5 separate regions of the Homo sapiens genome follow, and regions 2, 3, 4 and 5 are each reported to be linked to region 1. Evidence: microRNA targets listed by miRTarBase, many of them from high-throughput screens and not tested one by one. Region 1 holds a microRNA gene; each other region holds the end of a gene's coding sequence.

Region 1 (5,000 bases):
GTTGTTTCAGTCTGGGTTTGGCTTGTGTGTCTGGCATCAGCGTCTGGGATTTGAGGACCCAGGATCTGTGGGGTCTATGCAGTGTAGACGGTGGGTGTTGCTGGCAGCCTCTGGATGGGGTTGTGTCTGAGCCTGTGTGTGTGTGTGTGTGTTGGGTCTGAGGGGCTTGTCACTGTGATCGGCTGGCTCATGTGTGTCATGTGGGCTGCGTGTGTGTAGTGTTTATGTCAGTCACGTGAGACCAGTGTTTTCTGTGGGTGCGCTAGGTGTGTGTGCTGCTGGGCTGTGTGGGATTAGAGTTAGCTGTAGGGTGTGTGTGTGTGTGTGTTGCTGACAGTTGGTGATGATGTTTGAGGGTTGCGTGAGGAGGGTGGGTTGGTGTCTGGTGGTGTGTTGAGGTCTGATGGCATGTGTCTGTGTGTGCCTGATCTACGTGTGTCCTGAGAGTTGGTGACATGTGGGTGTGTTTTGGGGGTGTTGATGTATGTGTGTCCGTGGGTGTCTGTTTTGTGTTGATATGTGAGTCCAGAGGTGTGCAGGTCTTATCTCTGGAGTGAGTGTGTGTGTGTGGAGAGGGGCATGTTTGGGAACTGAGGCAGTGCCTAGCTTGTGTGTGTGTGTTTGTGTTTGCAAAGGCTGCATTGTGTTTGCATGTGCCCCTGGGCATATCAACAGTGGGTCAGTGTGTGAGACTTTGACAGTTTGGATGTGTGGGGATGGATTGTGCCAGCCAGTGTGCGCAGTATGTAGAGTGCTTGTGATGGTCTGTCTGGATGCTCCTGCTTTGGTCGGGGGTGTGTGTGTATTGTGTGTACTGAGTAGTGATGTCCGAGACTGGGGCCATCTCAGTGTTTGTGTGCAAGTGGGAGGTGGGGTGGGCGGTCAGGCTGGCCAGTCCCGTGTGAGTCCTTGTGTGTGTGCTGTGGGGGCCTCGCTGTGCCTCACTGCCCTCCCTGTGTGCCCGTCGCTGTGTTGGGAAAGTTGTCCCCACCAGCCCATGCTGTGAGTCCCAAGTGGAGTGAGTTTGTGTTGTGGGACTGTCACAGCCCTCATACACACACCTGCTAGACCCCTCCATCCGTCCTGTGTGAGCCCTGTCCTTGCTGTGAGAGCCGTCCTGTGCCCCCTGTCCCTCCTGTGTGCCCATCACCGTATGCACGGGAGGCTCTCCAGGCCAGCCAGGACCCGGTGGTGTCATCCCCCGGCTGGGCGTGTCTCTGTGGGGCCGTCACCCCCTCCGCATGCACACACACCTCCACTCTTCTCCATCTGGGTCCTAACCCCGGGTAGGCTGGAGGTACAGTGGGCCCTGGTACTTCCCTGCTGACCTGCTCCTCCTCCCGTGTCCCGCAGGCCCCAGGGAGCGCCATGGCCCGCGCACGCCAGGAGGGCAGCTCCCCGGAGCCCGTAGAGGGCCTGGCCCGCGACGGCCCGCGCCCCTTCCCGCTCGGCCGCCTGGTGCCCTCGGCAGTGTCCTGCGGCCTCTGCGAGCCCGGCCTGGCTGCCGCCCCCGCCGCCCCCACCCTGCTGCCCGCTGCCTACCTCTGCGCCCCCACCGCCCCACCCGCCGTCACCGCCGCCCTGGGGGGTTCCCGCTGGCCTGGGGGTCCCCGCAGCCGGCCCCGAGGCCCGCGCCCGGACGGTGAGTGCCCGCCCCGCCCCCGGGGTGATAGGAGCCGGGAAGAGAGAGGGCTGGAGACTCGGAGGAACTGGAGAAGTGGGAGAGGACGGGGGGAGGTGGCGGGCCCAGCCGGGCCACTGGGAGGGTGTGGCCAATGTGGTCTTTGTGTTGCAAGAAGCAGGAAGACGGAGGCTGGGGGTGGAGGGGGAGGTCAAGTGGGAAGTCCCTCCTGGAATCTGACTGCAGTCCCCGAATTGCAGCCCACTGTCTCTTCCGGGCCTGGGGCAACAGCTGCATCCCAGCTCCCCTCCCCCAGTCTGGGTCCTCTAGACCCCCTGGAGGATTCCTGTTGCAGGGAGAGTGGGCCGAGCGGGAGGACTGTCAACTCTGGCCTCTGGGGAGGGGTCGAGAGGCCTTTTGCTTTTATTTGCATCTCTTTGGCCAGGGGCTGTCCTCAGCAGTCCCGGCGGAGGAAGGAGAGGGGGAGGGGCCATTGTGTTGGGAAGTCCCCTCGGGGAGGTGGGGGAGTCTTGGGGAGGGAAGGGTTAAAGGTCCCCTGCCTGATGGGCTGTTAACCCTGTGGTGCCCGTGGAGCCCCATCCCTGCCGGCAGGCGCTCTAGGGAAAGTGTGTCCTGGTTTCCCATCCCCCATCTTGTCCCGGCAGCCCAAGGGGAGCGAGGAAAGAGAAAACTTCCCTAACTCAGTTCCTGGAAGCCCTGGAAGGGGACACCGATTTCAAGGCCAAGGTCACAGATGTGGAAACTGAGGCCCTGGCTGTAGGCCTTAGGGAACCCTCAGGCCAGGACCTGGTGGGACGGGAGGGCAGGAGCCTCCTAGGGCGCTCAGAAGTGGGGGGGGGGGGGGGGCAGGAAGGCATCTCCCGCGTCCCAGCCCCCCAGGCCCGCGCTCTGAAGCTGCCACAGTCTCTGGCCTTCTGGTCTCTAGGCCTCTGCCACATCCGGAGGTGTGGCTTCCCTGTGGTTGGACACGAGAGGGCAGGAGACCTGAGGCTTGTGATCTGGGTGGGGTCAGTCACTGTATCCCTGTGTGACCTTGGGATACTCCCTAAGGGCGGGCCTCAGTTTCCCTGCCTGTCACATGGAAAAGGCAAAATGTGGCCCCTTTGGAAAATAGAGGTCGTTAAGCCTGACCACCCCCGGGGTCACCTCTCTGGCCGTCTACCTTCCACACTGACAAGGGCCGTGGGGACGTAGCTGGCCAGACAGGTGACCCCAGAGCGGCGTCCCCAGGTACTTCTTGCTTTCTGGTGCCTGTGGAGGAGAAGCTGAGAAATTGACTCACTAGCGATGGGATCACTAGAAATGAGGCGGGGAGCAGTGGCTGGGAAAGAGGGGAGCAGGCCGAGACACCTCGAGGCCTGGAGGGGTGGTGGGTGCTGACCGCGCCCCTCTGCCTCTCCAAGGTCCTCAGCCCTCGCTCTCGCTGGCGGAGCAGCACCTGGAGTCGCCCGTGCCCAGCGCCCCGGGGGCTCTGGCGGGCGGTCCCACCCAGGCGGCCCCGGGAGTCCGCGGGGAGGAGGAACAGTGGGCCCGGGAGATCGGGGCCCAGCTGCGGCGGATGGCGGACGACCTCAACGCACAGTACGAGCGGCGGGTGAGTGCTGGGGGTGGGGTAGACGGCAGGTGGGACTTCCGCCGGAGGAGGGGGCGGCAGGCGGCCCCCGCCAGATGTGCGGCAGCTGCTGCCCTGCGCGGCTGGGTCGCTCCGCGGACAGGCAGGTGGGGGGTAAGTGGGTGGGGGGGAATCGCGCGCCCGCAGAGCCGCCCAAGGACTCCGCGCCGCGGCTGGCATAGCCGGAGCCCGAGCCAGGGCCAGGGCCAGGGCCAGGGACTAGGCCGCCGAGGAGTGGAGCTGCGCGCCCGTGGCCCGCGGCCGCGGGGACTGAGGGCGGCGCTGGGCGGCGCGGCTCATATATCCCGGGCTATTTATAGCCGGTGAGTCAGCAGCCGCGCCGCGCCCGCCCCCTGCCGTCCCTCTCGCGCGGCCCGCAGCGCCACACAGTTTCCCGGGCGCCGGGGCGGGCCGGGGACCGCAGGGGTGGGCTCGCAGCCCCGCCCCGCGGGAGGCCCCGCCCCCCAGCCCCTGGCACGGCCTCGATTTTTTAAAACAAATATTCGAAGCCCACAGCAGAGAATGGGAAATCACAAACATCATGCGCCCACCAGGCAGCTCTGTTCAGTTTGAACATTACACCCGCATTGCTTGCTTATTAAGAAACCAAACAAAACCGCAGAAACGCATGTGGTGAAGCTCCTTACTCTCCCCATCCCTTCCCCCTCCTTGCATCCAAAGGAAATCTCTCGAGTTGGCCTCTCTCAACCCCTGCAGGTGTTGCTTTTACTCCGTATTTACCAGGCCAGAACCAGGGCTTAGAATCATGGAGCATTCTTAGCTTAGCGTATATGACATAGTTTTTGTTTCTCCCCAGAATTCCTTTTTCCCTCAATATTAGGCTTCAGATTCACCATATGGGCAAAAGAGCTTCCATTCATCTATGTTCAGCCAGGCACGGTGGCTCACTCCTGTAATCCCAGCACTTTGGGAGGCGGAGATAGAAGGACGCTTGAGCCCAGGAGTTCCAGACCAGCCTGGGCCACATAATGAGATCCCCGTTGCTACAAAAAATACAAAAATTAGCCGGGTGTGGTGGCGCGGGCCTGTAGTCTCAGCTACTTGGGAGGCTGAGGTGAAAGGGTCCCTTGAGCCAAGGAAGTCGAGGCTGCACTGAGCCATGAAGGGTCACTGAACTCCAGCCTGGGGGACAGAGCAAGACCATCTCAAAAAAGAAACAACAAATACAGCCATTTTCGGCCTGGTGCAGTGGCCCACGCCTGTAATCCCAGCCCTTTGGGAGGCGGAGGCAAGTGGCTCACTTGAGGTTGGGAGTTTGAGACCAGTCTGGCCAACATGGTGAAACCTCGTCTCTACTAAAAATACAAAAATTAAGGCCGGGCGTGGTGGCTCATGCCTGTAATCCCAGCACTTTGGGAGGCTGAGGAGGGCGGATCACCTGAGGTCGGGAGTTCGAGACAAGCCTGACCAACATGAACAAACCCCGTCTCTACTAAAAATACAAAATTAGCCAGGCGTGGTGGCACATGCCTGTAATCTCAGCTACTCGGGAGGCTGAGGCAGGATAATTGCTTGAAACCGGGAGGCAGAGGTTGCGGTGAGCCGAGATCGTGCCATTGCACTCCAGCCTGGGCAACAACAGCGAAAATCTGTCTCAAAAAAAAAAAAAGAAACAAAAAGTAGCTGAGCATGGTGGCACACGCCAGTAATCCCAGCTACTTGGGAGACTGAGGCAGGAGAATCTCTTGAACCCAGGAGGTGGAGGTTGCAGTGAGCCGAGATCAG
Region 2 (6,121 bases), not on the chromosome of region 1:
GAGACCAGAGAGGCTTTTTTTTTTTTTTTTTTTTTTTTAGTCTCGCTCTGTCGCCAGGCTGGAGTGCAGTGGCGCGATCTCGGCTCACTGCAACCTCTGCCTGCTGGGTTCAAGTGATTCTCATGCCTCAGCCTCCCGAGTAGCTGGGATTACAGGCACGCGCCACCACACCCAGCTAATTTTTGCATTTTTAGTAGAGATGGGGTTTCACCATGTTGGACAGGATGGTCTTGATATCCTGACCTCATGATCTGCCCACCTTGGCCTCCCAAAGTGCTGGGATTACAGGTGTGAGCCATCGAGCCCAGCCATTTTTTTTTTTTTTTTTTTTTTACACGGAGTCTCGCTCTGTCACCCAGGCTGGAGTGCAGTGGCGCGATCTCAGCTCACTGCAACCTCCGCCTCCCGGGTTCAAGTGATTCTCCTACCTTAGCCTCCCGAGTAGCTGGGACTACAGGCACGTGCCACCACGCCCGGCTAATTTTTTTGTATTTTTAGTAGAGACAGGGTTTCACCGTGTTAGCCAGGATGGTCTCGATCTCCTGACCTCGTGATCCGCCTGCCTTGGCCTCCTAAAGTGCTGGGATTACAGGTGTGAGCCACTGCACCTGGCCCAGAGAGGCTCTTGATGGTAAAGTAGTTGACAAACACACAGGTTCAAAGTCAGACAAAGGGCAGGGAACAGTTAATCGAAGCCTCGATTTGAGGCAAGACCAGAGTGGAATTGATAGTGGAATGATTGACAGAGCTTCAGATCTGATGTGAAACCAGTGATGCTGAACAAGTTAACCGAGGCCCAAATGTGACTGATAACACTATTTTTATTCTTTCTTCATTATTTATTCCCCCTTAGGTGGTGAGTCAAGAAAAGTGCCACCAAGATGAGTTTAAAGTAGAATGTCAAATCTGCCACCTCAAAATTTCACAAGGAGGAAACCCCCAAAATCATGCACAACAATATTCACAATCAATCATCTTGAATCCAGACTCAATAGACAATGTGAAGAGTGTAAACAAAAGAAGAAAGTGTTAGCGAAAAAGGAGGTTCCTCAAAATTATCCTGCCATCCACAGACCTTGGTAGAAACTGGGCATCTGTGTGGTGTTGCACACTGTGCAGAAAAACAGTAACAGAGCAGGCCTCAACTGCGATCCTTGGAAAGGCCTGCTTCAAGGTTGGCCCTTGGGTGGTGTCTAAGAACATAGACTCCAGGAGGGTTCCCACCATTCCCTAAGAGATAAGAATGGCTCACTCGGGCCGGGTGTGGTGGCTCACACCTGTAACGCCAGCACTTTGGTAGGCCAAGGTGAGAGGATCACTTGAGCCCAGGAGTTCAAGGCCAGCCTGGGCAACATGGCAAAACCCATCTCTGCAAAAATCAGCTGGGGTCATGGTGGTGCATGTCTGTGGTCCCAGCTACTTTGGAGGATGAGGCAGCAGGACCGCTTGAGCCTGGGAGGTTGAGGCTGCAGCGAACCATGTTTGAGCCACTGCACTCCAGCCTGGGCAACAAAGTGAGACCCTGTCTCAAAAAAAAAAAAAAAGAAAGAAAGAAAAAAAAGAATGGCTTACTCTACCTAAGCTGTTTGTATAAAAAAGTGGGCCAGGAGCGGTGGCTCATGCCTGTAATCCCAGCACTTTGGGAGGTCGAGGCAGGCGGATCACAAGGTCAAGAGATGGAGACCAGCCTGGCCAATATGGTGAAACCCCGTCTCTACTAAAAATACAAAAATTAGCTGGGCGTGGTGGTGGCAGGCGCCTGTAGTCCCAGCTATTCAGGAAGCTGAGGCAGGAGAATTGCTTGAACCCAGGAGGCGGAGGTTACAGTAAGCCGAGATCACGCCACTGCACTCCAGCCTGGCGACAAAGCGAGACTCCGTCTCAATTAAAAAAAAAAAAAAAAAGGTGGTTTATGCTGAGCCCCTGCTTTCCTTTTGGGAGCCTGGGATTTGGGTAGGTGCCAGGCAGGGGGTGCCTATGTGACCATGCCCCAATAAAAACTTGATACCAGCCAGGTGCTCACGCCTGTAATCCCAGCAGTTTGGGAGGCTGAGGTGGGAGGATCACTTGAGGTCAGGAGTTCAAGATCAGCCTGGCCAACATGGTGAAACCCCATCCCTACTAAAAATACAAAAATTAGCCGAGCTTGCTGGTGCGCGCCTGTAGTTCCAGCTATTCGGGAAGCTGAGGCCCGAGGATCGCTTGAACCCAGGAGGTGGAGGCTGCAGTGAGCCAAGATCATGCCACTGCATTCCAGCCTGGGCGTCAGAGCAAGACCCCCCCCCCCCCGCCAAAAAAAAACCAAAACAACAACAACAACAAAAAAAACCTCTGGGTGCTGAGTCTCTAATTGAGCTTCCTTGGTCAGCAACATTTCGCATGTATTGTCACAACCCATTACTGTGAACCGAGCACATCTTGTGTGACTCCAATGAGAGAGAAGCCCTGGAAACTTGTGCCTGGGTCTCTCTGGGAGTTGGTCCTGCACACCATTTCTTTTTGCTGATTTTGCTCCATATCTTTTTGTTGTAATAAGTCAATCGTAGCCATGAATACAACCACATACTGAGTCTTGGGAGTCCTCCTAGCAAATCACTGGGCTTGGGGCTGGTATTGAGGACCATGACACACACACACATACATGACCTTTACCATGGGAACAATCCAGCTCACTGATGTCCCTATCTCACCACCATGTACCCTGAGGTCTATTAGATGGAAGTGCCAGTTAGAAATGCTTGGGGTGCAAGTAACCACACTGTCAAATAACTGGACTGAACAAACGGGAGATTATTTCCCTCCAACAAGACTGTTGGTGCGAGTTCAGCAGCTCAGCAATGCTGGGCCAAGCTGGAGTCTCTACCACGCTGTGGACTGACCCTAAGGTCCCAAGATGTCAGTCGCAGTTCCAGTCAACGCATATGTGGCAACAAATGGAGCTGAGAAGGAAGGGAGGGGCCGGAGCAAGAGCCTCTTTGCTGCTTCAGGTAACTTTGACATTTTCTGGTGACGCAGGCCACTGATAAGTGATTTTGGTTATTTACCCCCATCAATACTCAAAGCTTTTTCTCCTCTCTTGGGGCTCCCCTCAAATACTTAACATCACTTTTTGGTCTCTGAGCTGTTCCAGGGCTGGAATTTGTACCCTGGATGGGGCTGGGAGGAGACAGGGGTGGTCTGAGGGATGGAGATTCCGCCACACAGCAGGAGGCCCCAGGTCAGCCTTAACTTCCCGTTGCTCCTGCACCAGCTTGGGGCTCCAGGACTCAACACCTCTGCTCCCTGCTTTTAATAAACAACACAATGCACAGAAGGGTTGGGAATATCGCCCCCTGAGGAGGCAGCAGAGTCCTGCAGCCTAACATAGTGAACCCCCTGGGGGTCCGACCCAACATTCCCCCGCCAACTCCTCCACTGTCACTACCCTGGTGCAAGTCCCCATCACTGCGCTCAGAGGGGTCTCCTGCTGGGTCCCCTGCTTCTACCCCCACCCCCAATCTGTCCCCTTCAGCAGCCAGAGGGAGCCTCTATGACCAAGTCAGATCATGTTCCTCCTCTGCTTGACACCTTCTGGTCACCCCCACTCAGAAAAAAAGCCAAAGTCCTAACTGTGGCCCATGAAGCATCTGGCCTGTCTGACCTCATGTACTGTCACACTCTGGTCCAGCAAGACTCTGGCATACACAATGATCCTTCTGGAGCGCTCCAGCCTCAGTGCCTTTAGGCTGGCTTTCTCTCTGCCTGGAATGTTCTCCCCCTACACTATGACTCCCACTCACTTCATTCAGGTCTTTAAATGTCACCCTGAGCCAGGCGTGGTGGTTCATGCCTGTAATCCCAGCACTTTGGGAGGCTGAGGCGAGTGGATCGCTTGAGCCCAGGAGTTCAAGACCAGCCTGAGCAACATGGCGAGACCCCGTCTCTACTAAAAATACAAAAATTACCCGAGTGTGGTGGCACACACCTGTAGTCCCAGCTACTTGGGAGGCTTAAGTGAGGATCACTTGAGCCCTGGAGGTTGAGGCTGCAGTGAGCTATGGTCATGCCACTGCATTCCAACCTGGGTGACAGAGTGAGACCCTGTCTCAAAAACAAAAAAGTCACCCTGTCAGGATCATCTTCCCTGATGCTGTCACCATAAAGAGCCCACTCCCCCAACTTCTGCAGCTCTGTCTCCCATCCTTGCTTTATTTTCTTCATACCACTCATCATTAGCTGGCCTGTTCCATGTTTTTATCTACTGTCTCCGCTATGATGCAAGCCCAATGAAGGCAGGCATTTCCATCAGTTTAGGTCAGAGCAGTATCCCCAGTGCCTAGAACAGTTCCTGGCACACGGTCAGGGCTCACTAATGTCTATCGAATGCATAAGTGTGTAAAACAGTTAAGGCAGGGCCTGTAACCCAGCAGACATTCAATCAATGCTTGTGGAATGAATGAATCCGTCGATGCATGAATGCACAAATGAGTCAATGAACCCCGTTCCACCGTGTTCCTGGAGCTGCCCGCTGCCCTCTGCCCTGTCCGTCCCCGGCAGAGCTGGGAGCCGGCCCTCAGCATGACCACCGAAACTTTATTTACAACACGAGGCTGGAGTAAGAGGGGTGGGATGGAGGACAGCAGCAGGGCCGACAGGACCCTACTTCTGCTCCCGCCTCCAGACGATGACCATGCCGCTGGCGTCACTGGAGGCCAGTAGGCTCTCGTCGCAGTTGAAGCTGACATCAAGCACAGGTGCACTGTGGCCCTGCAGCTTGTTGACAGCAGCCTTGGCCGCCCGCTCCACATCAAAGAAGTGCACGCACATGTCCTCACTGCCCGTCACTGTCGGGGTGAGAGGGAGAGGCCATCGGGAGGCGCCTGGGGTGCCCCTGGTGGGAAGTCCCTGAGGTGTCTGAGGTGTTGAAGGGTGTATGTCCGAGGTGTGAGGTCCTAGCATGGCTTGGGGAGGTTTGAGGGGGCCCCATCCCTAGATGGGAGGTCACCTGGCTGTTTTGGTACTGTGTGCAGAATGCGAGGTCTCTGGGCTGTTTGGGGAGTTAGTGCGTTCAAAGTGTGAGTTTTCATCACTTCTCGGCCTTTTGGCCGAGATCAAGTGCAAACTGTGAGTTCTCTGAGCTGTTTGGAGCTGTGAGTTCCACAGTGAGGCTGTTGGGGCAGGAGGGGTCATGAGGTCCAGGAAGTCAGGGCATCGGTGTCGTGATGTCTGAGCCAGGTTGGCACCAGCCCTGGTTCCTGCCCCTCCCCAGCCACCCAGATCCCCTGTCCCTACAGGACTCACCCACGCAGGCCCCCTGGCGGAAGGACATGAGGGGACAGAAGATGCTGCGCACAGGATGTGAGCTCTGCTCGATGGGGAAGCTTCTCTTCAGCTGCAGGGTCCCCTCGTTGTCTACCACCCTGAGAGGATGAGAGAGTGGGTCAAAACACAGCCCCAGCCCTAGCAGGGAGACAAGTTGTGGGCCTGTGTCCCCACCCCTGTGCCTAAGTTCTTTACAGGGTTCATGAAACCCATATTTTTTTTTTTGTTTTTGAGACAGGATCTCACTCTGTCACCCAGGCTGGAGTGTAGTGGTGCGATCACGGCTCACTGCAGCCTCAACCTCCTAGGCTCAAGTGATCCTCCCGCCTCAGTCTCCCGAGTAGCCGGGACTACCTATAGGCACACACCACACCCAGCTTATGAAACCCAATTCTGAGATGACTACATAAACTATAAGTAGGGGCTGATGTGTGAGTTACTGATGGTTCAGAAACTGTCTCTGTTGATATAAATGGGAGCCTCTGCAGTTTCATTCACTAGTTTTTCTTTGTAAGGGTCTCTAAAAGATCCTGGTATTAAGATAAGCACAAAGAGAGGAAATGAACACACCATGGTATGCCCACACTGTGGAAAACTGCACAGCCCTTAGAGAGAATAAAACACTGTCCCCACAGGTAACCTGGGGGGGTTTCCACAAGGCATTGCCTGGTGAGAAACTCGAAATGTAGGAAAGGCCATTTCTTTTTTCTTTCTTTTTTTAAGAGATGGAGTCTGGCTCTGTCACCCAGGCTGGAGTGCAATGGCACGATCTCGCCTCGCTGCAACCTCCGCCTCCCAAGTTCAAGCAATTCTCCAGCCT
Region 3 (6,121 bases), not on the chromosome of region 1:
CTCCTGAATAACATAAACATTTAAACCAAATGGATATTCTCACCAGCCTTATAAATTTAAGACTCTAAATAATGAAAATAATCACACCTAAAATGCGGAAGAGCTCAGTACAACTGGTCCCATCTCAACATACTCTTTGAGCTGAATTAAAAGACTCAGTCACTAGCTTCTGTTGGGTTACCTGAAATTGGTGCTTAGCAGAATTTTTGCTGGGTTTAAATACAAAATGTACATACATGATTGTAACCATGCAAATGTATGTCTATATGTGACCCGAAAGGCAATAAGCAAAAATGAAAATAGTGGTTTAAAATATTTAATAAAAATATTTTCAGTAACAGTTTTTAAACAAAAGATACTCTAGTTGAGCACTTAAAAAAAAAAGAAACAAGCCAGGTGTGGTGGCTCACACCTGTAATCCCAGCACTTTGGGAGGCTGAAGTGGATGGATCACGAGGTCAGGAGATCGAGACCGTCCTAGCTAACACAGTGAAACCCCATCTCTACTAAAAATACAAACAATTAGCCAGGCATAGTGGCGGGCACCTGTAGTCCCAGCTACTTGGGAGGCTGAGGCAGGAGAACGGCATGAACCCGGGAGGTGGAGGTTGCAGTGAGCTGAGATCGCGCCATTGTACTCCAGCCTGGGCAACAGAGTGAGACTGTCTCAAAAAAAAAGAAACAAAAAACACTCAAAACTTCCTGAAAGTCTGAGTGACTAGTTAAATGAAAAGCTCTCCCTTATCTTTATGGACACTGCTTATCAGGACCTTCAAACCCTTCCAACTACTGAGAAGTATGCTGTGTGATAGTATCTGCCCTCCTGTCAGGGAAGGCATAAGGGAAAAATGACAAGATGGTTTTCTACTCAGGGCAGTTTAGGTAAAATCCTGTATCTTTTCAAAATGTTAACCAGATCTAGGGTAAATCCTGAGGTTTTGGCTCCCAAAAAACTGTTTGAAACTTGGGAGCAATAGAGATGTCCTGGAGAAATCATCCTGGACATTCAGGACTTTTTGGCAAGAATGGACAGCAAAATTTATTTTGCACAAAGTCACTGTTCAGATTTAATTCAGTAGATGTGAAAAATTATAAAACACAAAACTTACATTTAAAAGAAGATACATAGTGACCGGCTCATGCCTGTAATCCCAGCACTTTGGGAGGCCAAGGCAGGCGGATCACTTGAGGTCAGGAGTTTGGAGCCAGCCTGGCCAACATGGTGAAACCCGATCTCTACTAAAAATACACAAAATTAGCCAGGGGTGGTGGCACTCGCCTGTTATCCCAGCTACTCGGGAGGCTGAGGCAGAAGAATCGCTTGAACCTGAGAGGCAGAGGCTGCAGTGAACCAAGATGGTGCCACTGCACTCCAGCCTGGGTGACAGAGGGAAACTCCCTCTCAAAGAAAAAGAAATAATATATATATATATATATAATAAAATTTTAAAAATAAATAAAAGGAGATACATATAAACCAAATCTAACAAAGGCTCTAAAGAAGAGCAAAACAATACTTTGTTCCAAATGGGAAATAGCAGAAAGAATCCAAGGAAGTAAAATAAGAAAGCCAGCACTGATCATATGGTTCTTAAGGGTAGGAAATACTAGGACTGGGCTAAAAGTATAACAGAATTTGAGATTTCAAATTTGAAATTTCAAAAAGAAATTTACAGGTCTAATCCAAATCCTTCCATTTATAGATGAGGAAACTTAAGGTCCATTTATTATTCATTCAACAAACTTTTATTGGTGTGCCTACATGCTAGATGCTAGAGATAGTACAAAGACCAAGACAAGACATGGTCCAGGACAGTGACTTGCTCAAAGTCACAAAGCAAGTTAGCAGCTAACCAGGGGCTCTTTGCACTAAACCCCATATTGTCCAATAATATATAGTCATTTCTGTGCCTATAAGCACCTTAAGCATTTGATGATGGTTCTATGAAAATATAAGATTTTCATACACAACTGATACATTTCATAAGGGGTATATATTATATTTAGAGGTAATATGATAAGGGGTATACATAATATATAAGGGGTATAGATTATATTCAGATGCTGTTAGAATCCATGTAAAATAACCAGTTTCTTATGTAGCATATGAAACAGTAATTTCCTTGGAAGTGCTTCCTAATTTCTCAGTCATTAGGTGTTGTGCAAATGTTGACAATCTAAATTATAAAATTTTTATTTATTTTTTAAGTTTGGGGGTACATGTGAAGGTTTGTTACACAGATAAACACATGTCACAAGGTAAATTATGAAATTTTAAAACATGGTTTCTGGTCATATGACTCTTACTATGTCTCCTTTGAATTACAAAGGAGAATGTCATTTTTTTAACTTAATGTTTAAGTGAAAATTAGAACACTAATTTTTTTTTTTGAGACAGAGTCTCACTCTGTCATTACGCTGGAGTTCAGTGGCGTGACCTTGGCTCACTGCAACCTCCACCTCCCGGGTTCAAGCAATTCTCCTGCCTCCGCCTCCCAAGTAGCTGGGACTACAGGCGCATGCCACCATGCCCAACTAATTTTTGTATTTTTAGTAGAGACGGGATTTCACCGTCTTGGCTAGGATGGTCTTGATCTCTTGACCTCATGATCTGCCTGCCTGGGCCTCCCAAAGTACTGGGATTACAGGCGTGAGCCACCGTGCCCGGCCTAAAACACTAATTTTAAGTGAAAATTAGAATACTAGTTGAATGAACGACATTTAGCTAGTGTTCTAACACTTTATTTTCATAAATGACTCGATTTTAAAAGACCTACTTCTATCATTAACCTGTTGACCCATCTAATCATTCATAGCTTAACCAGTTTGGTAACAGTGTATGTAATATAAATAGAAACAGTTAATAAAATGTTCTGCATCAGAACTTTTTTTTTTTTTTTTTTGAGACAGAGTCTCACTCTTGTCACCCAGGCTGGAGTGCAGTGGCATGATGGCTGACTGCAACCTCCACCTCCCCCAGGTTCAAGCAATTCTCCTGCCTCAGCCTCCCCAGCAGCTGGGATTACAGGCGCCTGCCACCAAGCCTGGCTAATTTTTTGTATTTTTAGGAGAGACAGGGTTTCACCATGTTGGTAAGGCTGGTCTCAAACTCCTGACCTCAGGTGATCCTCCCACCTCAGCCTCCCAAAGTACTGGGATTACAGGCGTGAGCCACAGCGCCCGGCCCAGAACGTATTTCTTTAAGAGAAAACACGTACCTCATTTTTAAATGAACAATAGCACCTAATACAAAAGAGAAAATTGAGTTTGGAAGCTACTCTGTTTTTTTCACTGATTTAATAACTTTAAGAAAGCAATACAGGAGTTATTTAATATGGGAAAGAATAGGAACCCTCTACTAGAAGCAGTACTGTGGCCTGAGAGTTCTTTAATTAAAATAACCCAAAAGGAAAAGGTGTGAAAATGTTGTAACTTATTGAAATAAAAAACTTTTGAGATACTCCCGATTGGAAAGTAGTTATTTGGCCAGGCACAGTGGCTCACAGCTGTAATCCCAGCACTTTGGGAAACCGAGGCAGGCAGATCAACTGAGGTCAGGAGTTGGAGACCAGCCTGGCCAACGTGGTGAAACCCCATCTCTACTAAAAATACAAAAATTAGCTGGGCATGGTGGCACATGCCTGTAATCCCAGCTACTTGGGAGGCTGAGGCAGAAGAATCGCTTGAACCCAGGAGGCAGAGGTTGCAGTGAGCCGAGATCGTGCCCTTGCACTCCAGCTTGGGCAACAAAGGTGAAACTCTGTTTCAAAAAAAAAAAGAGACCAGGCGTGGTGGCTCACGCCTGTAATCCCAGCACTTTGGGAGGCTGAGGCGGGCAGATCATCTGAGGTCAGGAGTTCGAGACCAGCCTGGCCAACATGGTGAAACCCCGTCTCTGCTAAAAAATACAAAAATTAGCTGGCTGTGGTGGCCAGTGCCTTAATCCCAGCTACTTGGGAGGCAGAGGCAGGAGAATTGTTTGAACCCGGGAGGCGGAGTTTGCAGTGAGTCGAGATAAAGCCATTGCACTCAAACCTGGGGTACAAGAGCGAGACTTCTCTCAAAAAAAAAAGAAAGTAGTAATTTATCTTCTAACACCTCTGAGAATCTATGATGAGAAAGATGAGGGGACTGAAAAGCTACCTGTGTTATATATCTCTGTTACAATATGGAGGTCTAAGGTTGATTCCCCATCCTCAGGATCTAGAAGGCTCTCCTACTGTTGTACTTCTTTCCCCTGGCCATTCATTCCCTGTTATTATTTGTCCTCCCTCCCGACATAATAAGTTCTATCAAGGAGAAGCACTTGTATATTATCCATCTCTGTATTCTACCTTGCATCACAGCACAAAGCTGGTACTCAATAATTGTAAGACGAATACCATAGATGGTAACCAGAATAAAATAGTTGATAAGATCTATTGTGATTCATATATCCATACTCTGAAACTAACTGTAATAATAAAAAATTGAAACTACATCAGCAACATATGGCTCAGATTATCAGAGAATTAAATGGCAGAGAGCTGAAAATTTTGAAAGGTGTGGCCACATAAAAAACAATGTGCATGCTGTCTAAAAATAACAACCACTCCCTTTTAAAGAGGAAAGGTAAATTTCAAGCCTCAGATAATTGAAGAAAATTGTCAGAAAAAAAGAAACATTAAGTAAAAAAAAAGAAAGATGATTTGATTTCTGGATTAAGATGTTTTAATTAATATACATAATGTATAGTAGTTCATATAATTTATTAATGGCATTTTCTATAGGACACTGTAATTAATTCAGTGACATCAATATTGACCTCATACAGACAAAAGATGAAAGCTGGGTTTTCTCGTGTACCAAGTACAAAACATGTGCTAAAAAGTTAACATACACAGTTGTAAGAGATCAACGTCGGGATGACTCAAGTTTATAGTAGTTGCTTCACACGGTTTTCCAAGACTTGGATGCCACCCAGTGTTGCCGTGTTTGTGCAAATGCCAGCTCTGGACGGCCTGACTACCTCCTTTTGCCAGCCCCACTTTTGCCTGTTTTACTGCTGCCGCTGCTAGATTTGCCAGATGATTTTGAAGAGAAGAGTCTTGTCATGAACTCAGAAACATCAGGCAACTCATGGTTGGAATTCAGCATATTCATTGACTGCTCCATTTCCTGCAAGAAGACAAGGCACAATGATATGTAGGATCCTTCGAGTCTTTTAACTCCTAACACTTCCTATTAAGGAAAAAGTAAAGGAGTAGAACAAGTGAAAGGTACTGGTTCTGAGCAATGATGCAACATCATACTCAGTAGTACTTCACCTATATATCATTAGTAACTATTTTCCATATCTCCTTTATACCACTAGACATTTTGACTCTTAGTAAATGTCCAATAAATGACTGCCTAGGGTTTGATTCTGCTTGCCTTTTTTTTTTTTTATTATTATACTTTAAGTTTTAGGGTACATGTGCACAACGTGCAGGTTTGTTACATACGTACGCATGTGCCATGTTGGTGTGCTGCACCCATTAACTCATCATTTAACATTAGGTATATCTTCTAATGCTATCCCTCCCACCTCCCCCCACCCCACAACAGGCCCTGTGTGTGATGTTCCCTTTCGTGTGATTCTGCTTGTCTTAATAAAGAACACTTTTTTCTGATACTGAATATATTTGATCATATTCCTCTCTTATTTTATGTTTTCTGATTAAAGTGATTTCTTATTGTTTTAATGAGTACATTTTTAAGTTCATGCTTCCTTTAGATGCATATAACCAGAATATTAATTTTTAACTATATATCAAGGTATCAGTACAGTTTGGAAAATAAGTGCAATATTTCTAAGAATTCATTTATAAGCCTCAGTAGTAAATCTATGAATGCTGTATGGCTTGCATGACTTCAATTAGACTCTAAAGCAAGCAACACACTGTTACAAAGAAGTCATTGGCAAAACAGGATAGGACTTGGCACTTTTGAGTATTTGTCCTCCCCTTTAATTGAGCCAAAAATCTATAAAGTACTGTTTGATAGTTATATAATATTAATGTAACATCTGCTTCATTTAAATTTTAAGTGACATTCTCAAAGTGAACTTAAAATTGACTTTAGTTCATTCATACATGAAAAA
Region 4 (6,121 bases), not on the chromosome of region 1:
TCCAGGTATTTACCTGACCATTACTCTTCAAAACTGTCATCAAAAACAAGGAAACTCTGAGAAACTGTCACATCCAAGAGAAGCCTAACATGACATGACAACTAAATAACATGGTACCCTGGGTAGGATCCTGGAACAGTAAAAGGGTATTAGGGAAAAACTCAGAAAATCGAAAAAAATTAAGAACTTTAGTTAACAATGAGTCATTTCAACAAAGGTACCATATGAATGTATGTTAGTAGGGAAACAGTGTGGGGTATGTTAAAAATCTGTACTACTGTGGCAATTTCTCCAGAAATCTAACTGTCCTAGTTTATTTTTTAAAAGTTTATTTTAAAAACTTATATAGCAAGGCAGAACAGACAAAACAGAAGGCTTCGAAAGATAGGATGGTTTTATATTTATGAAAAGCATTTGTCTTTCACCATAACTGGTAAAGCATTTTACAGTCTCCTAAATGTTTGTTAGTCAAAGAAGTAAGTTTTAGTTTAAACTATTTACCTGAAGATTAAAAAAGAAAACAACACTTGGCTAATTTTACTTGAGGATAAAAGACAGGGCTATTACAGACTTACTCAACTAGTCTATTTTTGATTAAACTGAATGCTTGGTTAAGTCTCAACAGAGTTAACAAACAGCTTCCAATTGGTATTAGAATCAAATCCAAAGTCCTACATTCATACATCATCTGGCTCCTGCCTACCTTCTTTGACTTCATTTTATACTACCACTGCCCGTTTTCATTCACTGGAGCCACACCAGTCTTTCTGTTCTAAGAACCTAGTAAGCCTTAGGGCTTTCATGTTTTGTCCTTGTCTGGGACCTGTTAACTACTGCTGGGTAGCAAACTACCCCCGACACTTAGTGGCTTTATACAACTCCCATTTTATTCACTCATGATTCTGAGAGTCATCAATTTGGACTGATCCCACCAGGAAGCTCATCATACAACTTTAGTCAGCCGGCAGCTAGACCGGGGGGGATAGGTGACTAGTGGTCACATCTGGCAGTTAGTGCTGGCTGTTGGGTGAGCCATGTATTTCCAGTGGGTATGCCTGGGCTTTTTCACATGGCTGCAAGCAGAAGTCCAAGTGTAAGAGTAGAAGCATTCACTTGATCAAAGCAAGTTACAAGGCCAGGTCCACATACAAGTGGTGGGAAGCTGACTCCAGCCTTGATGGGAGGAGTATGCAGCCATCTAAAACTGGACACATGTAGAATGCTTCTCCTGAAAGCTCTCCATAGCTATGCCTTAGGCATGCTCTCTTCAAAATATAGTATCTTCAGAGGCCTTTCCTAACCACTGTATTTAAAATAGCTTCTCATCCTACTTTCTTCATCCTTCACCATTTCTTGACCCTGTTTTACTTTCTACCATTACAATTACCCATTATTTCATGGTTCACTGTCTGTTTTCTCTATGAAAGCAAGTACTTAATCTGCCTTGTTCATTCCCAAGAAAGAGCTAGCATAGTAGGTACTCAACAAATACACAGGCAATTCTAATCTCTATTTTTTATTCCACAATAAGATGATCAAGCTACTAAACAACTGAAAAAGCAATGCACTTTAGTTAGTAAAATGCACTTTAGTAAAAACAATCTAAGTGGAAATAAGATTTTTGTCTCTTCTGTCCAGACAAAAAAAATGAAGAATCTATGTGTTAAGTACAAAGTAGAAGCTGGGTGTGCTGGTGCATGCCTGTAGTCCCAGCTACAGGAGGCTGAAGCAGGAGGACCACTTGAGCCAAGGAGTTCAAGGCTGCAGTGAGCTATGATCATGCCACTGCACTACACTCTGGGCGACAGAGCAAGACCTCATCTCTAAAACAAAACAAAAGACAAAGTAGAAAGTTACCTGAGTCTTTTCCAAGTTATTTAATTTACAGCATCAGTCTCCAAATATAATAATATTAAGATAGCAGTTTAGAAATTAACTTTTTTTCAGATCACTCTAACATAAAATCTCTCAACTGAATCTCTAGTTTGTCTCATTTTGTTAAGAGCTTTAATATTACATGGGAAGTTCAGAGACTTCTATTTCCATCCCTCAACATGTAGTGACAGTCAACATGTCAGGCTCTGTAGCACCGTGATATCCCAGCACCAGACCACTCCAGCCACCCTCTCATTCAAAGAAGGGCTACAAGATATGGCTGGACTACTCGAATCACATCTGATCTTAATCAATCCAGGTATAGAAAGTTGTACTATAAAGAATACTTTCCAAAATTGTTCACTCAAATAAAAACAGATCAAGTCATTACAGAGCATTTTTCCATTTTAATAAGAATAACAGACCTACTCAAGGTAATTTTATTCTGTTTATTTAAATAAGGATAAGACTACTTAAAAGACTTTTTACATACAAAAATGTACAAGGTTAAACTTTTCTGTACTGAATTACAAAACCTGCACAAGCATGTAATAAAAGAGCACACTTAAAAACATTCTGACCATTATTTAGCCTCTAAAAATTACTGAAGTTCAACAGTAGTAAATAGAGGAAGCTCTTACATATATATATATATATATATATATATATATGATTTAATCTACTGGCAGTTTTACTTAATGTAAGTATTTAAAAGGTCACATTGCTATTGAATGAGTCTCTAGATCAATTTTAGAATTGTCTCTCAAAACTTAAGTCAACCAAAATATTATTTCAAATAGTAATTCCAATTCTGAAGAATTTTAATACCAGCAAATATATTATGGCCTCATAGTAGTAACTGAACCAACTTTCCAAAGTGCCTGGTAGCTGTCCAGATGAATTAGGCTGCTTTGGAAAACTGTACTGTCTCTACAGCCATTGAGAAGCCATTCAGTGCCCTGGTAGGGACCTGAGACTTTCCAGAATTCACACAGCAGTCTATGATCCCTCAAATGTAAGAGGACAGGGGGTCAGCCTATCTTCACCTCTCAGTGAATGTGGAGGGCCAAGCAATATGACTTGCAAACCTAAGCTAGAAGCTTGGGATCTACAGTAAGGAGGAAGGAGAATTAAAGTAGAGAAAGAAAATGTATAAGGAGAAAGGGAAAAGAAGGAACAAAGAGGGAAAAGAAAAAACAAGGATGCCTGCTAATGGCAGGAAGTGGTAAAGTGCCTATAACTACAACTTACAAGCCACCCACTAATTCTAATGCCATTCATTTGCCTACTCCAATAATAAGAAAAGCTGGCTTTACTGGAATATAGAATCTAGAGCAACATTACCCGCCTCATGTTAGTGAGTAACTAGTATTCTAAAGTTGTTTGCCATACATATCAAGTTCTTCTAACCTTTGAAGCAAACCAAAACACTTCAAAACTCAGGGCTCCCAGGGCTGCTGCTCCAGATTCCCAGCATTCAGCATGCTTCATTATGTGGAGAAAGACATTTCAAGACAAGCTGTATCTATACACCTTCAGAAGGAACAAAGCTCTAAGAAGGTGGGATTATGTTAACACATAGTACATGGTTTAGCGTTTCTCCACATTTCAAACTCAAAATAGCTCAATAATATGCTGCTACATGAGCATTGATTCTGAATGTTCATAATATAAACTTCAATTTGAAGCAACAATGTTACACAGTTCAGCTGTTATTACCAACCTACTCTGTAAGTTAAAATACAAATAAAATATTAATTTTATTGAGTAACTAAAAATAAGTTCCCACTGACTTAAAATCGTCAAATGGCTAACTCTCTCTCAACTAAGAGAGCAACACAGATGGAAGCAGAGAGGACAACTGAATATAAAATAAAATTTGTCAATCTACTCTATAATCTGCACTTTTAAAATCCCCTTTTGCATATATGTATGTATAGGATCACAGTTGCCCACCAACATTATGTCTGTCAGCCCTGCAGATAACAATTTACTGTAACGTTAACAATTTATGCAATACTTAGTATGTTTTATCTTATGTGTACAGATTTACAGTTTGGAATAAAGGCAGAATGATTAAAAACTATTGGGTTAAAGTCTTAGTATGGTACTTACCTGCAAGGCTGAATTAATTTTTTGGAAGGCTATTCAATAGCTGAACTAAAATGCTTGTTTAACAAATCAAAAGAGGAATAAGACTACTTTAAAACATATTGAAAAAGGTAAATCCCAATTTGAAGATCAATCATATAACGAAAAAAGTATGAAGTATCCTTTGCTCTTGCTTAGAAACACATAGCAGAACAGTAGAAACTAGAACTCATGAATATAAGGTAAACCCTATTTTCCCACTGATTTCCATTATACAATTGGAGTGAAAATACCACTCAAACAAAAATAAACAAAAAATCTTAGCAGGTAATTCTGTGTAGAACAGCCATGTGGGAATTGTCTATATTACAGCTGCAGGGAATCTCATGTAAGCTAGGAGTCCATCTTCCTATGTTGCACTCTGCAGTGACTTCTGACTCCAGTAGCTCCTCTATTGCCTACTCCATATTACGCTAATTTTTGCCCCTGACTGCTATGCTTCCTGGACTCTTATAAATTCTAGAATTCTACCCCCACTCCTAACTCTCTAAACTTTCTTCCATCGAATACCACCTCTAACATGATTACTCTGCCTGAAGACTTTTTAAATCAACTTCATTTTGAAAAGATTAAGCTCCCACGAGCGAGTAATAGCTGAACTCACAGAGTGAGATCACAGACTGCTCATGAAAAGAGTACGTAGGACTGCTACATGACAAGAACATTCTAAAGGATGGGCCAGGTACAGAATCGACCAGTCAACTCATAATATATGTATCAATTGTTACAACTTCAAGGAAAGGAGCAATAGCAAGCACTGATTCCTTTTTGCTTTTTATGGGAAGAAGCAATGTAAGCAATTAAAGAACAGCATTTTTATCTGTATATTCTGAATAGTTTTCCAGCACTACTACAAAGATGCTTTTCTTGGTGAACATTTAAGGATGAATGTTGCAGTATTTACTAAAATACTGTGATAAATTGGTATATGCTTCTGCTTTGTAAAAGAAATAAAATGGCAGGCAAACTAGTAAAATATTTGAGTTTTTAAAAAAAATCTCAAAAATCTCAAATTTCCCCCAAAGACTCTGAACAAGGCTAATGAGAGTAACTCCGAAAATTCACTGAATGCTTTTTTTTTTTTGAGATGGAGTTTCGCTCTTGTTGCCCAGGCTGGAGTGCAATGGTGCGATCTTGGCTCCCCGCAACCTCCGCCTCTCAGGTTCAAGCGATTCTCCTGTCTCAGCCTCCTGAATAGCTGGGATTACAGGCATGCACCACTATGCCCAGCTAATTTTGTATTTTTTAGTAGAGACGGGGTTTCTCCATGTTGGTCAGGCTGGTCTCAAACTCCTGACCTCAGGTGATCTGCCCACCTCAGTCTCTCAAAGTGCTGGGATTATAGGCGTGAGCCACTGCGCCTGGCCAATTCAATGGATGCTTTATAGCACATTTGTAGCTAATAATTTCAGTAGGGTCAATATAAATGACATATACTAAGCCATTGGTTTAAAAAGATATTCTTTCCTAATCAGGGCAAGACAGGCAAGAATTTTAAAAAAGGAAGGGAGGGAGGGAAGAAGGGAAGGAAAATAAATCCTTTATTTTTTTAAACCTATTTGAAACCTCTTAAGAAAATTCCACAATAATCAGGATTTCTGTAAATATTGTCAATATATATGAACATATTTGAAAAACTACAGTTACAGTATATTTACATTTTTGGAAACTTTTCTTCAGGGCCAAGTAACATGTTGTATCTTCCTTTTTGCTTGTGGGGGCTTCAGGTTATTCTGAAAGACATGAACAGAAATCAGTTTATACTTGCAGAAATATCAGAAAACAACTAAAATGAACATTTCAAACAACCAAGGTTTACTATTAATGTATTAATGGAAGATCACTGCTGCCATCTGGTGGGAATATATTTAAAGAAACAGGGGTGAGTTCTCTAGCTCTGTGGTTCTCAAATGTGTGTAGTTTAGAATAACTTAGAGCACTTAAAAACATGCCCCAGGCCTGGTCTTATCACAGAACCAATTAAACCAGAATCCATAAAAGGTAGGGGGATAAGGCTCTGACTTCTTTTTGCTTTTTTTGGAAGCTCCTCAAGTGATGTTAACATACAATCAGAGTTGAAAACCACTGACTGCTC
Region 5 (6,121 bases), not on the chromosome of region 1:
CAGTTTCCTCATTAGTTGAGTGGCTGCAATAGCATAAGATACCAAGCATACACTTGGCCCACACAACATGCTCAAAAATGTCAGGCTGGGTTGGTGTGAGGCTGCAAGAAGTTGTCACTTGTCTAAAGTCACAGAGCCATGCCTGGGTTCATCTGTCCTCTACAGAGAAGCCCCTAAGGACTAAAAGGAAGAAGCCCCTGCCCCAGGAAAGAGGGGACCTGGGGGTGCCCAACAATGAGGACCTTGCCTCCGGGGACCAGACCTCAGGCTCACTCAGGTATGACTGGGCCCCGGACCTGTTGCCTGTGGCTGGGTTTGGTAAATGCACTCAGCTGCTGTGTGCCAAAAGTCAGGGCAGGAAAATCATCAGTCCCCTCAGAGGCATTAAATGTGAAGGTTCAAGAAATGACAGATATGAACGTAATTTGTGGGCAGTAAGCCATGATGATACCAGGGGTGCCACATGGCTGTTACCCTTCCTGTTTGTGTCTCATTTGGCCAGATGAGCCTTGACCTACCTCCACACCCCATTGGCATCCAGCCTGAAGTGTTGGGCAGTCCCTTCTTTGACCAGGGATGGCTGTGGTCATGGCACTTGGATGACCTCCTACCCAAGGAGGGAAACGGGTTTTATTGGTTTCTTAACAACCCATGTCAAAGTAAAAATTGTTTTGATCACCTTTGGCTGCATTTTCATTTAATCCGATTGGGTAAGTTATGGCATCATGATGGGCATGGAGTCAGCGTTCTAACTGGCTGCCTTTCTTCTCTGTTTTAAGCAGCAAAAGGCTGAGTCAGCAAGAAAGTGAAGCTGGGGACAGTGGGAACTCAAAGAAGATGCTAAAGAGAAGAAGCAACTTGTAGTTTAAGACCAGTCGGTGGGACAAGACCTGAAGCCCTGGGTCTGGGTGTGAATTCCACCTTCCCTCCTGCAGTGCTGAGAGGCAGCGAGGACGGAGAGGACAGCGGCATCTCTAGGCTCTTCTGAGAGGGACAGAGAAAGAATAGAAATGTGCCCTAAAAGCATAAATGAGTATCACCTGAGAAAATTAGGCATTCCCGTCTTGGAAACACGTCTCTGTGAGTTTGCATTTCATTTGGCTTGGAGCCCTGGCTCGATGCCTCATGGATCTTTCTCCCCAAGGAGGGACGTCTTGAGGGGTCCGAGCCTCAGGCCAAGGACCCCTGATGCAGACTCTGGAATCCCTGGCCCAAAGGCCTGTCTGGGCCCATCTGGGGCTGAGGACACACAGATACATAATGACACCTGCAGAAATGTATTCTCTGAGGACACTTAGAATATGAGGAAGAGGGTGTGGCCCAACCCTCACTTCACCTGGGGAGGGGCTTCTTCCGGACAGTAGACACCCTGCCCGTGCAGAGAGATGTCATGGGGGCACCTGCTCTCCCTGATAGATGCTGAGAGCATCCAGAAACTTCCAGACCAGCCCTCTCACCACACCCAGAAGAGGCCTTTCCCATCTGGAGAGAAGCTTCCAGACCAGCCCTTCACACACCACAGCCAGGAGGGGCCTTTCCCACCTGGAGAGAAACTTCCAGACCAGCCCCTCATACCACAGCCAAGAGGGGCCTTTCTCACCTGGAGAGAAATTTCCAGACCATCCCCTCTCACCACAGCCAGGAGAGGCCTTTCCCACCGGTAGAGAAACTTCCAGACCAGCCCCTCACACCACAGCCAAGAGAAGCCTTTCCAGCCTGGAGAGAAACTTCCAGACCAGCCCTCTCACTACAGCCAGGAGAGGCCTTTCCCGCCTGGAAACTTCCGGACAAGCCTCTCACACACCACAGCCAGGAGAGGCCTTTCCCACCTGGACAGAAACTTCCAGACCAGCCCCTCTCACCACAGCCAGGAGAGGCCTTTACCACCTGGAGAGAAGCTTCCAGACCAGCCCCTCACACCACAGCCAGGAGAGGCCTTTCCCACCTGGAGAGAAACTTCCAGACCAGCCCCTCATACCACAGCCAAGAGGGGCCTTTCTCACCTGGAGAGAAACTTCCAGACCAGCCCCTCACACCACCGCCAGGAGAGGCCTTTCCCACCGGGAGAGAAACTTCCAGACCAGCCCCTCACACCACAGCCAGGAGAGGCCTTTCCCACCGGGAGAGAAACTTCCAGACCAGCCCTCTCACTACAGCCAGAAGAGGCCTTTCCCACCGGGAGAGGAACTTCCAGACCAGCCCCTCACACCACAGCCAGGAGAGGCCTTTCCCGCCTGGAGAGAAGCTTCAGGCCAGCTCCTCACACCACAGCCAGGAGAGACCTTTTCTGCCTGGAGAGAAACTTTCAGACCAGCCCCACACACCACAGCCAGGAGAGGCCGTTCCTGCCTGGAGAGAAGCTTCCAGACCAGCCCTTCACACCACAGCCAGGAGAGGCCTTTCCCACCTGGAGAGAAACTTCCAGACCAGCCCCTCTCACCACAGCCAGGAGAGGCCGTTCCCACCTGGAGGGAAAATTGCTCCTTTGATGGAGGTTAGGGACTGTCACCCTCAGCACTGTGAACATACCGGGCGAGATCATTCTTCAGGGGAAGGAGCTGCCCAGAGCATCACAGGATGTTCCAGTGTCCCTGGTCTCTGCCCACCAGATGCCAGCACTCCCACCATTCGTGGCAACCAAGGATGTCTCCAGACACTGCCCCGTGTCCATGGGGTTATCACCCACTGTGCTGAGTCAAAGGGTGCCTTGCCCTGGTCTAATCCAGGACATAGCCGTGGATACGTCCAAAAATCCCCAGAACCTAGTGAGCCCTCTGGCTCTGGGAGCCCCTATCTCAGGAATTTTCAGGGTCATTTGTGACTTTTCATTTCTTAAAACCTGAAATAGACTCTCTTAGAAACAAGTGACTCCTTCCCAGTGGCCAAAACTTAATCATCAGAGCGCTTCCTTCAGTTCCTCACCCATCAGCCAGTGGGCTCTCCAAAGTTAACCAACAGCTCCCTCTTGTGGTTCACTAAAAAACTTGGTTATTCCATGGAGTTGTGCAAAGCTATGGCTTCCTTGGTGCAATATTCTTAAAACCTGCTTTGCATAGAAATCACTTTTGCCCAGGCTGGAGTGCAGTGGCGTGATCTCGGCTCATGGCAATCTCCATCTCCCGGGTTCAAGCGATTTTCCTGCCTCAGCCTCCCCAGTAGCTGGGACTACAGACGTGTGCCACCACGCCTGGCTAAATCTTTTTTGTATTTTATTTTAGTAGAGACGGGGTTTCACCATACTGGCCAGGCTGCTCTCGAACTCCTGACCTCATCGTCCACCTGCCTCGGCCTCCCCAAAGTGCTGAGATTAGGCGTTAGCCACCGCGCCCGGCCAGAAATCACTTTTATATTGTCACATGGGCCCTCTGCACAGAGTCCGATGGCTCCTCCCGGGGAAGCCTGATTTTGTGACGTGTGTATAGTAAATGCAGGCCCTCTGGCAGCACCATAATTGGTCGGTTACCCTGAGCCCAGAGCTCTGAAAGCATCTGTGGAATGATCACGGGACCCTTCTCCTCTGAGAAGGCTCCCGGCTGCCTCCCCGCCACCGAGCTTGTAGCCTGAATGCCTGGCTGTCGCATGGAGCATTTTGCTTCTGGGGTGTCTTCCTTAGCCAAAGGGAACGTGTCATTTGCTCGACCCTGGCCCACCCTTGCCGCCCAGCTGTTGTGCTGGGCACAGTCTGGGGCACAGGCCTCCATGATGAAGACGCGTGGGCTGTCGGTGCTTTCATCCGTCACAAACTGGCACCTGTACCTGCCAGCAGGAGCATGATGGGGACTTCCATGCTGGAATTGCTCCCTGATTAAAATGAGATATGGCTATTTGGAAGACACTGCATTTTAGCCAGTGTACCTGGGCACAGACTCGGGGCTGCCCTGAAGCTGATGAAGGCTTGAAGGACGGAAGGGCTGAGCCACATGAAGGCAGCACTCAGGGCCAGGGGAGAGAGAAGAGGATCAGCAGTGCAGCCCCAGGATGCCTCGCAGGTACCCTGCCTCCATTTTGGTTACCATCCCCACTTATTATGGGCTGTGGGCTGTTATGGTGATGGATGGATGTGGATTTGGAAGGGGACCATGAGAGATGATGTATTATGATGAACTCATGATTTAATTCTTTGGTGAAAATAGCACCCTCTGACCTGTACTTGAGACCGCAGGATGAAGCCAGCACGGTTTTTTGTACTCCCCCAGGGTGAGTGCACTCTCCCAGGACCCTCCTGGCCAACCAGGGGTCACGTTCTGCACCACATTCCTTCTGAGGCCCTGGCCAGGGCGGTGCTGATCTTGCTGTTGCCACAGAAGCCTCTCCTGCCCCTGCCATCCGCCCATCACATGTTCTCCAACGCAAATCTGCCTGGCCTTATGGGCGGCGTTCCCTGGCTCTTAGGAGAAAAAGCCAGATCTTTACCATGGACCATGAGGCTCAGAGAGGTCTAGGCTGAGCCCACCCCTGCGGCCTAGCAGATGCCCTTCCCCTTCACTCTGCACCTGGTCCCTGTCTTCTCTCATGGCCTCACATGGGCCACACCCCTGCCCCCCACTGGGCCTTTGCTCATGATGTGCATTCTTTCTGGAAGACCCCTGCCCCCCTCCCCAGCCCTCTGCCCAGTGGCTCCTAGCCACTCCTCACATGGAGTCAGGACTCACATCTCCAGAGATCCCCCTCTGCCCCCAACCCTGAACAACATCAGGGCCCCCCTTAGATTCTAGGTCCTGTGTTCTTTGCTGCTGGGACTGGGGTGAGGTCGGTGGGGGAGCATATAAATAACCTTCCTTTATTTCTTGTCCAAGTTCATCACTATACACAGAGGTGTACAGTGAGACCCACATAAACAATCCCACTAAACCCAACTCAACTGGCCCTTACCCAGATCCTCCAAATGTCCCAGGCCTCCCTAGTGTCACCTGATATGCAGTGGCATCAGCAGGAAAGGGAACAGTGGTCTTAAGGATTGCAGCTAAAAGATCTGACTGTGGCATTGTAAACTGTAAGGAATGTGTCAGTGAACCCGTGGCTAAGCCCACTCCCGGGTCTCGGTGGGGTCTGTGCACAGGTGGCAGAAGTGTGAGCTCCATGAGCTTTACAGTGAATCAGCTGTGGGGCACAGAGGGCAAGCTTTTCCTCCACCCTACGAAGGCTCCTTGAGAAACAATTGACCAAAGGCAGACCAATAGGAAAAAGAAAAGCATTCCAACGTAACGTGCATGGCATGGGGAATTGCAGGAGAGTGATGACCCCACAAACCAGTGAGGTCCAGGTGCTTCCACACCCTCATAGGGAGACGGGAAATGGGGGAAATGTGGCCGTTTAGAGGGTAAAGCGTGATTTATAGGGGGAACGAATCGATCCAGAGGCAGGCACTGTCTTGGGAGTGATCCTTCCCAGACTGGCCAATCAGGTATTTCTCCTCCTCCCCAGAGAAGAATAAAAGAGAGAGGGAGAGGGGCCAGGGAAGTCCCTTGTGCTGTCCCCCAGAGAGTGGAAGCCCCTCCCTCTATGGAAACCAGAGGAGTGGGAGATGGGATTATTCTCCCCTAAATGTTTCCTCTATAGCCCTTAACAGAGTGTGCAGTTCGGTGCTTTGAGTAATCATTTGATTCGCACCTGACGTCCCCCCTGGAATGTACACCATTGACCGGCCACATGCCACCTGGCATATAACAGGCATTCATGGTCACCTGGTGGAAGGAAGGGAGGGAGGCCTGGGAATATTCCTTTCCTCCTGTGGCAACTGGTTTGGAAGGAAGGGAGGGAGGAACGCTGAGTATATACTTTCCTCCTGTGGTGTATGGATTGGAAAGGAAGGAGGGAGGGAGGGAGGCCAGGAATACTATTTTCCCCCCATGGCTTATAGATTTGGCTGTGTGTCAGCATTACCCAGGGGCTCATTAAAAACAACATTCTTAGCCCCATCCCAGAGATTCTGAGTCAGCAGATTGGACAGGAGGCCTGGGGATCTGTTTTTTCCCCACTGGGCTCCCGCTGATGGACTTGGTCCACTTCCTGATGCACCTCCTGCCCACCGACATAGCCTGCAGTCCAGCCGCTGGACTTAGTCTGAGGTGAGCTCTTCATCCGCCTTGTTCTGGCTGTGGTGGCCATGAACATGTACCTC

Evidence for each region. The annotated mature microRNA hsa-miR-3190-5p reads UCUGGCCAGCUACGUCCCCA and lies in region 1 at 2,826-2,845, opposite strand. An mRNA with a match to its seed (bases 2 to 7 or 8) in the 3' UTR can be bound and repressed. Matches are read on the target gene's strand: a 7mer-m8 pairs with bases 2 to 8, a 7mer-A1 pairs with bases 2 to 7 and ends in A, and an 8mer does both.
Region 2: the mRNA of WDR13 is a reported target of hsa-miR-3190-5p. Seed matches in the 3' UTR shown: 7mer-A1 at 3,626-3,632, 7mer-m8 at 2,093-2,099 and 7mer-m8 at 1,689-1,695.
Region 3: miRTarBase lists EMC7 as a target of hsa-miR-3190-5p. The part of its 3' UTR that is shown has no 7-base or 8-base seed match.
Region 4: miRTarBase lists C2orf49 as a target of hsa-miR-3190-5p. Seed matches in the 3' UTR shown: 7mer-m8 at 5,388-5,394.
Region 5: the mRNA of EVC is a reported target of hsa-miR-3190-5p. Seed matches in the 3' UTR shown: 7mer-m8 at 3,241-3,247 and 7mer-A1 at 3,330-3,336.

Annotation. Positions count from the first base shown.
Region 1 is chr19:47,224,800-47,229,799 of GRCh38, reverse strand. MIR3190 (microRNA 3190) reads right to left here and starts at 2,858; the gene lies at 2,779-2,858. BBC3 (BCL2 binding component 3) reads left to right here. Exons shown (of 4, transcript NM_014417.5): 2 at 1,354-1,642; 3 at 3,046-3,236. The coding sequence starts at 1,369. MIR3191 (microRNA 3191) reads left to right here and starts at 2,781; the gene lies at 2,781-2,856. RefSeq lists silencers at 1,304-1,743, 2,964-3,263, 3,633-3,799, 3,294-3,853 and enhancers at 1,776-2,718, 3,927-4,426.
Region 2 is chrX:48,603,550-48,609,670 of GRCh38, reverse strand. WDR13 (WD repeat domain 13) reads right to left here. Exons shown (of 10, transcript NM_001347217.2): 9 at 5,281-5,399; 10 at 802-4,823. The coding sequence ends at 4,639. Among named protein-coding and RNA genes, the nearest start is that of WDR13, 9.1 kb to the right of the region's middle. RefSeq lists a silencer at 3,236-3,530.
Region 3 is chr15:34,079,330-34,085,450 of GRCh38, forward strand. EMC7 (ER membrane protein complex subunit 7) reads right to left here. Exons shown (of 5, transcript NM_020154.3): 5 at 4,688-5,157. The coding sequence ends at 5,005. Among named protein-coding and RNA genes, the nearest start is that of EMC7, 19 kb to the right of the region's middle.
Region 4 is chr2:105,344,953-105,351,073 of GRCh38, reverse strand. C2orf49 (chromosome 2 open reading frame 49) reads right to left here. Exons shown (of 4, transcript NM_024093.3): 4 at 1,863-5,759. The coding sequence ends at 5,703. Among named protein-coding and RNA genes, the nearest start is that of C2orf49, 10 kb to the right of the region's middle.
Region 5 is chr4:5,810,174-5,816,294 of GRCh38, forward strand. EVC (EvC ciliary complex subunit 1) reads left to right here. Exons shown (of 21, transcript NM_153717.3): 20 at 166-277; 21 at 780-4,132. The coding sequence ends at 864. Among named protein-coding and RNA genes, the nearest start is that of CRMP1, 80 kb to the right of the region's middle. RefSeq lists an enhancer at 2,809-2,858.